Regions from separate parts of the Homo sapiens genome. Here regions 1 and 2 are each linked to region 3. The links come from fine-mapping of genetic effects on gene expression. A gene starts in region 3. Each other region holds a variant in brackets. All regions are shown on one strand. Distances are between the middles of the regions.

The links. PIP is the estimated chance that this variant, and not a neighbour inherited with it, causes the effect.
Region 1: its variant is fine-mapped to the expression of SLC7A11 in whole blood (TOPMed, PIP above 0.99).
Region 2: its variant is fine-mapped to the expression of SLC7A11 in monocytes (Quach 2016, PIP 0.95). The same link has a PIP of 0.9 or more in monocytes after LPS and monocytes after Pam3CSK4.

The regions. Positions count from the first base shown.
Region 1 is chr4:138,262,103-138,264,874 of GRCh38, reverse strand. No RefSeq gene overlaps it. Among named protein-coding and RNA genes, the nearest start is that of SLC7A11, 21 kb to the right of the region's middle. The variant A/G (reference allele first, on the strand shown) is at 1,365.
Region 2 is chr4:138,170,001-138,172,772 of GRCh38, reverse strand. It overlaps SLC7A11 (solute carrier family 7 member 11), which reads left to right. Exons shown (of 12, transcript NM_014331.4): 12 at 756-2,772. The coding sequence ends at 817. SLC7A11-AS1 (SLC7A11 antisense RNA 1) reads right to left here. Exons shown (of 7, transcript NR_038380.1): 5 at 1,067-1,240. Among named protein-coding and RNA genes, the nearest start is that of LINC00616, 41 kb to the right of the region's middle. The variant T/C (reference allele first, on the strand shown) is at 1,208.
Region 3 is chr4:138,240,646-138,243,417 of GRCh38, reverse strand. It overlaps SLC7A11 (solute carrier family 7 member 11), which reads left to right and starts at 1,069. Exons shown (of 12, transcript NM_014331.4): 1 at 1,069-1,625. The coding sequence starts at 1,349. RefSeq lists enhancers at 815-1,054, 524-1,723.

The DNA of each region.
Region 1 (2,772 bases), 21 kb before region 3:
CACCTTTTAATACTGTCACATAGTGATTAGTCTTTCAACATATGAATTTTAGGAGGATATATACTTCAGAACACAGCATACTCTCGATTAAAATGACCATAAAACACTCAGCCATGCACATCTATTTTTTTAGTGGCTCCTTTCTGTTGCTCCCTCCCTACCTATATATCTTATTTTCTCTCTTCCTTCCTTCTCTGCCTCCTTACCTTCTGATCTGGTCAGGCTTTGTGTCCTCACCCAAATCTCATCTTGAATTTTAATCCCTAGGTGTTGAGGGAGAGACCTGGTGGGGGGAGATCAGATCATGGGGCAGTTTCCCCCGTGCTGTTCTGATGGTTTTATGAGTGTTTGGCAGTTCCTCTCTTGTTTGCTTCTTCTTCTCCTGCCACCCTGTGAAGAGGTACCTTCTGCCATGATTGTAAGTCTCCTGAGGCCTTCCCAGTCATGTGGAACTGTAAGTCAATTAAATCTCTTTTCTTTATAAATTACCCCCTCTCAGGCAGTTCTTTATAGCAGTGTGAGATCGGGCTAATACACCTTCCTTCTTTCCTTTTCTTAACTGGAGGACATTACCTTAGGTGAAACAAATCGGAAACAGAAAGTCAAATACTGCATGTTCTTACATATAAGTGGGGGCTAAATAATGTGTACACATGGACATGCAGTGTGAAATAACAGACATTGGAGCTTGGAAGGGCAGGGAAGGGAGAGGGGGTGAGGGTAAGAAGGTACTCTAAGGATGCAATGTACACTATTCAGGTGACAGTCAACACTAAAAGCCCAGACTTCAACACTGTATAATATATCCATGTAACAAAACTGTACTTGTACCCCTTACATTTATAACTCTTTTAAAAATGGAAACCAGTGTTGTCTCAGTTTCCTAGGAAAAGATATGTGATACTAATAGGTACAAGATGAACCCTTATTCCATTGTTGAATATGAAGACTTCAAAGCAAAAACTGGTCCAATTTACTACTATTCTTGTCAAGAAATAGAAGTCACAAAAATTTGGTCAAATATCTAGCTATGATAAATGCACTGAATGTTGCAGCTGGGCATTCAAATGAAATGGCTGCACTCTCACTTGACACTAGTGGAAGGAAAAGGCCTCACTGCCAAATTCAAAACTTGCTTTTAACATGGAGGTTTGAAAAATTAAATTATTGCCTGTCGTGCTGTATTTGAGGGTGTAATCACCAAGCATTGCATAACTACCTGCTGTACTTCAAAACTGTACCCATGTGCTCTCTGAGTCAGCTTTACTTATCATCTGCCCTCTCCCTCTCAGCCTTCTCATGAACAACTGTCATCTTTTTTTCTTTTCATTTCTTTTTCGAAAAAAAATGTTAGTTCCATATTC[A/G]TTGACACTTTCCTACCACATGATATATGTTGTTGGCTAGCTCCAGCCTGGCTTTCCTTTTTGGTTCTTTCACAAGCTGTTGTACATTCAATCATTGTAGGGCTGCATAGGACAGACGGCTAAGTTTCAGTTTGTTCATTTATTTGGCAGAATGATCAGTTCAAAGTTTTAGAAAAAGACAGAACAAATGCACCATATTGATGTATTTTGTCATTTGAGTGGCTGCTTTAGAGGTTCTCATCTTCACCAATCACATTCATTTTTCCCATTTCTTTCAACTCAGCCCCACTCCTCCTCACCCTGACTCCCCGCACAGACATGCACAATTGATTTGACTTTCAGGGGTCATAATTATGCTTGCAGTTTTGAGGTTTCTGCTAATGGATTTTACCACTTAGCCAAAGTCTTAACATTCTTTTTCCTTCATCCTCACGTTGCATTACACCATATATTTAGATTTTTACTACAATTTCGGAAACTGATGGATACACACACATACATGCACATACAAACTGAATAAAAGTTGCACTGTGCTATTTGCTGGAGAGAATTCCATTATGACGGTTTCAACGAAGCACTGTTACTGGAAGTCACTAGTCAGGACTTTTAAACCATTTATTCTAGCATATTTTACCTTTCAATATTATTCCTTGTAGACTTTGTTCTGTTTGCTTGCTCTTTTTTTAATGTTTACTTTTCTTTTACGACTCTGCTTTCAAATTGTAAGAAAGAAGAAAAAAATAACCTGTTAATTTAAGAACTGAGAAGGAATTCCTCTTAGGTGAAATGAATATGTTTCTTGAGACCAGCACCATGGTAGACCATCCGTTTGGTTGAACAATGAATGTCTCTCAGCATAGGAATAGGCTGGGTAGGAAGTGAGGCAAAGGGAAACATATTTCTATGAATGGTCATGTGAGAAGCATTTTGAGCTTCTCTAGGCAGCCTGAGAACAAGAAAGAAGATGAAAGTAGGTGGGGAACGACAGATCTAGAAACTTAGGCAATGGTTGACATTCTATATTAAAGAAGGGTGAAGTCTCCAACGTCAGAAATGGCTAAGAGGCTTTAAAATCAGATAACTAATTCTTAATTCCAAGTTGTTCCCTATGTCACTATAATATGGAAACGGCCCTTCTCCAATTTGCTTTGCACCAAAACTTCACACTAGTCTGCTAGTCATAGATAAATATACAACTCCGAGTGGTTGCTATTTGGGGGTGTGAAATGATTGGGGGCGGTGTACAGTGGGTGAAGAGGTGAGGAAAATCAAAGGCATAAGCAAGAAGCAAGGGCAGGGTAGTGATATAAACTTCAGCAAAAGTAACATTTCAGTGCCAGTGGTGGCTGGCAGAAATTTAAGTGCCATCACTTCTCACTCTAAATCTGTAGCAAATATGAGAAGTGAG
Region 2 (2,772 bases), 71 kb after region 3:
ATGACCTTAGAAATCATCTAGCTCAATGGTTCTGAAGGAAAAAAGGTAGACTTCCTTCTGAACACTGGAGCCAGCCTTTCTTGGGATGCCCTCAGTTCCTACATTTTTGTGTCTATCAGAATTACAGACTGCTAGGCCCCATCTTCAGTTTCTAATTGAGTAGGTCTAGGATCGAGCTTGAAAAGATGCATTTCTAGTATGGTAGTTGATGCTAATTTTGTTGGTCCAGGGACCGCACTTTGAGAATCACTGATTTAGTCTCTCATTCTACTGATTAGGCAAATTAGGCCCTAGGAGATAAGACAACATTCTCAATAACATGTTACAAGTTAGAGAATGAAAATTACATTCTGATTCTCCTCCAGATTCTTCTGAGGAACTGATTGTAATCTCATAGGTGCAAAAAGAATAAACCAATTTTAAACTGATATAAAGTGTATTTTTAAACATTTATTTATATATTGGTCCTACTGTTTCAAAATATTTTCACCCTTCTGGTCCATGAATAAAAATCCTTATTTGAATGCAAAATATTAATGTATTCTTGCTGAGAAGCCATCATGGGAAGTTACAGAAGTGACAAATAAATTAATTGAGCATGATAGAATTCTAATGAAGTAAATAATTCTTGAAAGTGCTCTATGAAGTAGACAGTTGTGTGTTTTTGGTATTCAACCCAAAATAATTCATATTTTGCTATTTTTAATGCATTTCTGATTTCCATGCATTTTTAATTCATTTTTATTTCTTTGTAGAGAAAATAACCAGAACATTACAAATAATACTGGAAGTTGTACCAGAAGAAGATAAGTTATGAACTAATGGACTTGAGATCTTGGCAATCTGCCCAAGGGGAGACACAAAATAGGGATTTTTACTTCATTTTCTGAAAGTCTAGAGAATTACAACTTTGGTGATAAACAAAAGGAGTCAGTTATTTTTATTCATATATTTTAGCATATTCGAACTAATTTCTAAGAAATTTAGTTATAACTCTATGTAGTTATAGAAAGTGAATATGCAGTTATTCTATGAGTCGCACAATTCTTGAGTCTCTGATACCTACCTATTGGGGTTAGGAGAAAAGACTAGACAATTACTATGTGGTCATTCTCTACAACATATGTTAGCACGGCAAAGAACCTTCAAATTGAAGACTGAGATTTTTCTGTATATATGGGTTTTGTAAAGATGGTTTTACACACTA[T/C]AGATGTCTATACTGTGAAAAGTGTTTTCAATTCTGAAAAAAAGCATACATCATGATTATGGCAAAGAGGAGAGAAAGAAATTTATTTTACATTGACATTGCATTGCTTCCCCTTAGATACCAATTTAGATAACAAACACTCATGCTTTAATGGATTATACCCAGAGCACTTTGAACAAAGGTCAGTGGGGATTGTTGAATACATTAAAGAAGAGTTTCTAGGGGCTACTGTTTATGAGACACATCCAGGAGTTATGTTTAAGTAAAAATCCTTGAGAATTTATTATGTCAGATGTTTTTTCATTCATTATCAGGAAGTTTTAGTTATCTGTCATTTTTTTTTTTCACATCAGTTTGATCAGGAAAGTGTATAACACATCTTAGAGCAAGAGTTAGTTTGGTATTAAATCCTCATTAGAACAACCACCTGTTTCACTAATAACTTACCCCTGATGAGTCTATCTAAACATATGCATTTTAAGCCTTCAAATTACATTATCAACATGAGAGAAATCACCAACAAAGAAGATGTTCAAAATAATAGTCCCATATCTGTAATCATATCTACATGCAATGTTAGTAATTCTGAAGTTTTTTAAATTTATGGCTATTTTTACACGATGATGAATTTTGACAGTTTGTGCATTTTCTTTATACATTTTATATTCTTCTGTTAAAATATCTCTTCAGATGAAACTGTCCAGATTAATTAGGAAAAGGCATATATTAACATAAAAATTGCAAAAGAAATGTCGCTGTAAATAAGATTTACAACTGATGTTTCTAGAAAATTTCCACTTCTATATCTAGGCTTTGTCAGTAATTTCCACACCTTAATTATCATTCAACTTGCAAAAGAGACAACTGATAAGAAGAAAATTGAAATGAGAATCTGTGGATAAGTGTTTGTGTTCAGAAGATGTTGTTTTGCCAGTATTAGAAAATACTGTGAGCCGGGCATGGTGGCTTACATCTGTAATCCCAGCACTTTGGGAGGCTGAGGGGGTGGATCACCTGAGGTCGGGAGTTCTAGACCAGCCTGACCAACATGGAGAAACCCCATCTCTACTAAAAATACAAAATTAGCTGGGCATGGTGGCACATGCTGGTAATCTCAGCTATTGAGGAGGCTGAGGCAGGAGAATTGCTTGAACCCGGGAGGCGGAGGTTGCAGTGAGCCAAGATTGCACCACTGTACTCCAGCCTGGGTGACAAAGTCAGACTCCATCTCCAAAAAAAAAAGATTATATATATATATATATGTGTGTGTATGTGTGTGTGTGTGTGTGTGTGTATATATATATATATATATATACACACACACACACACACTTTTTATATATATATATATATATATATAGTGGAACTTACAAATGAGAGTAATATAATGATGAAATTTTGAACTGTTATTTATAAACATCTAAGGTAAAATGGTTAGTCATGGCCAGAGTATGTTTCATCCTTTAATTTTTGTCCATTTGAAAATAAGGATTTTTGAAAGAATTATACCAATTAAAATTATTAAAGGCAAACATAGAATTCATAAAAAATTGTCCAAAGTAGAA
Region 3 (2,772 bases):
TTTCTTTTCTTTTCATATTTGTTTTTTCTTGACACTTGGTTGAGAAAGTTAGAAGGGTTTAAAAATGTTTTGCCTTTTTGACTATTGCAAAGTAAATATTTTAATTTAGCTTACATTTTTAATGCATTTTAAATTTATAATAATAACAATAGTTTATATAATGTGGAAAAAAGTCATACATAATATCATTACTTTCTATAACTACCATTCTGTTTTCCTTTACAGGCTTTTGCTATATACATATTTTTATGTAATTGTAATTGTGTAATTTTGAACTTAGAAATTTTTTTTGGTAATTCAAAGGAACAACATGACAATGAAGGATATGTATCTTTTACATAGTTCAAAAAAATCACCTAGTGCTAATGAGAATCAGAAAATGACTATTTTCTGGAGTCATGGTGAATTTTGTATTAGTCACACTCGGATGGTGATTTAAAATACTGGTTTATTATGAGTAGTAAGAAATAATTTTATCTTTTAATGTTGAGGAAGGCTTATAGTTGTGTGTATGTGACAGAAGTATAAAGTGTAGAATCTTTAATTTTGTAAATATTGGATTTGACTGTATTGCCTTATAAAAAACTCAAAATAAAAAAATAAAAAGCATTACACAAATTATGAAATTCAAACTGTGTTGTTATAAACAATGTAGCTTTAGGATACATTCTACTCACAAAACAGTCGCATGTAAAATGTTTTTATACACGCATTAAAGAAAAAGAAACTCCTTAAAATGAAGTAACTATTTCCTGTTTCATTTTGTTTGAACAGCTTTTGTTGCTCACTACGAGTTGCTTTAAATCTCTGGGAAGGTCTGTTCCGAATTTACTACTTCTGGATTGGCTAAAATCTCTTTAAAGTGTGTGCTTTGTTCTCTAAAAAGCTTAGGTCAGTTGAGCAACAAGCTCCTCCTGTTTTTTTCTTTTTTTAAAAAAAAGAGCTGAGTAATGCTGGAGGCTTCTCATGTGGCTGATGCAAACCTGGAGAATTTGCATCATCATTTAGCTGTAGTAAGTTGGTGTGACAGGCAGGCGCTTAAATACAAGCCCATGAGGAAGCTGAGCTGGTTTGTAATGATAGGGCGGCAGCAGCAGCAGCAGCAGCAGTGGTGGAACGAGGAGGTGGAGAATTGAGAGCACGATGCATACACAGGTGTTTCTGAGTAGTAATTAGATCGCTGTGAAGGAAAAAGCACACCTTTGAGTTTTCACCTGTGAACACTATAGCGCTGAGAGAGACAGTCTGAAAGCAGAGGAAGACATCGATCAGTAACACCAAGAGACACCAAAGTTGAAAGTTTTGTTTTCTTTCCCTCTGTTTTATTTTTCCCCCGTGTGTCCCTACTATGGTCAGAAAGCCTGTTGTGTCCACCATCTCCAAAGGAGGTTACCTGCAGGGAAATGTTAACGGGAGGCTGCCTTCCCTGGGCAACAAGGAGCCACCTGGGCAGGAGAAAGTGCAGCTGAAGAGGAAAGTCACTTTACTGAGGGGAGTCTCCATTATCATTGGCACCATCATTGGAGCAGGAATCTTCATCTCTCCTAAGGGCGTGCTCCAGAACACGGGCAGCGTGGGCATGTCTCTGACCATCTGGACGGTGTGTGGGGTCCTGTCACTATTTGGTGAGTGCGACTTTTTCTCTCGTGGGGGCGTGGCTGTGGGGCTGGAAAGCTTGCTTTCTGGGAAAGCAAATGGTAGTTTTTGAGGAGTGAATGGATGGCAAAGGCCACACCAAATTTTTAAAATTTTTGTTCGGGTACGTGAACTACCCAGATGCAGCATCCGCTGTTGGTGTGATCTGGAACACCCTCAAATTGCTTCCTACAGGCTGTACTTTCTTTTCCTGACTAAGACAGGCTATCTTCTGACTTTTCTCTGTGGTGATGAGAGCAAAGGCTAACTTTCATGACCCAGTAAAAAACATGCACACTTTCTGTGCCGGGCAGTTGTACACTTAGCTTGGGCATTCTGGCAGCTGGCATGCTGAATGAGACACCTGTGAAGTGGAACCTGGCATGGGCTATTTAGACATAGAACGGAGTGTTCAGCAGAAGTCTTACTGACTTTTTATTAGCCAAACAAATGGGTGGCAGTCTTTATAAAAATATTTTTTAAGTTCATGTGCTTGTCACCTCTTAATATCCTTTCAAAAGTCCTTGACATGGGAGAGATGTATGATGGCGCATAACTCAATCCCTATCATAATGGGGTATATTGCAATGGCCTGAGCATATTTCAAATTACTTTTCAACCTTTCATCTCTTCTCAATACCCATACACTTTTGCAATATAAGTTTTAAAACTTCAGTTGGGCGTTAGTTTTCTGTACTTGCCCAGATCTGTTTTTTTCATTATATTTCACTTGTTCTCCAGGGACACAGAGAATTTGTCCACCTGTTCACTAAATTAATCTGAAGGGAACTGGCAGAAGTATAATTATGAATTTTTCTTCAAAGTTTATGTCTCTTCTATTGATCTGAGAATTAATAGTAAAGAGGTAAATAAATGCCCCCTTATGGAGTAGGCAAATTACTAGAGAGCTACCTGAGTTTGTTGTAAAGATGATAAAAACTGGTGAACTGTCAAACATTAAATTTGATTTATGCTATGAGGATTTATTTACTCTTCTTGGGAAAGATTCTGTACTTTAAAGTTGCTCTTTGTCTTAACTCTGGGACTAACACTAACTAACAAGTACTAACGCTAACTCTAGGACTAATTAACAAGTACTAACTCCTGTTCCCATGTGTACCAATCAATTCATTCTTT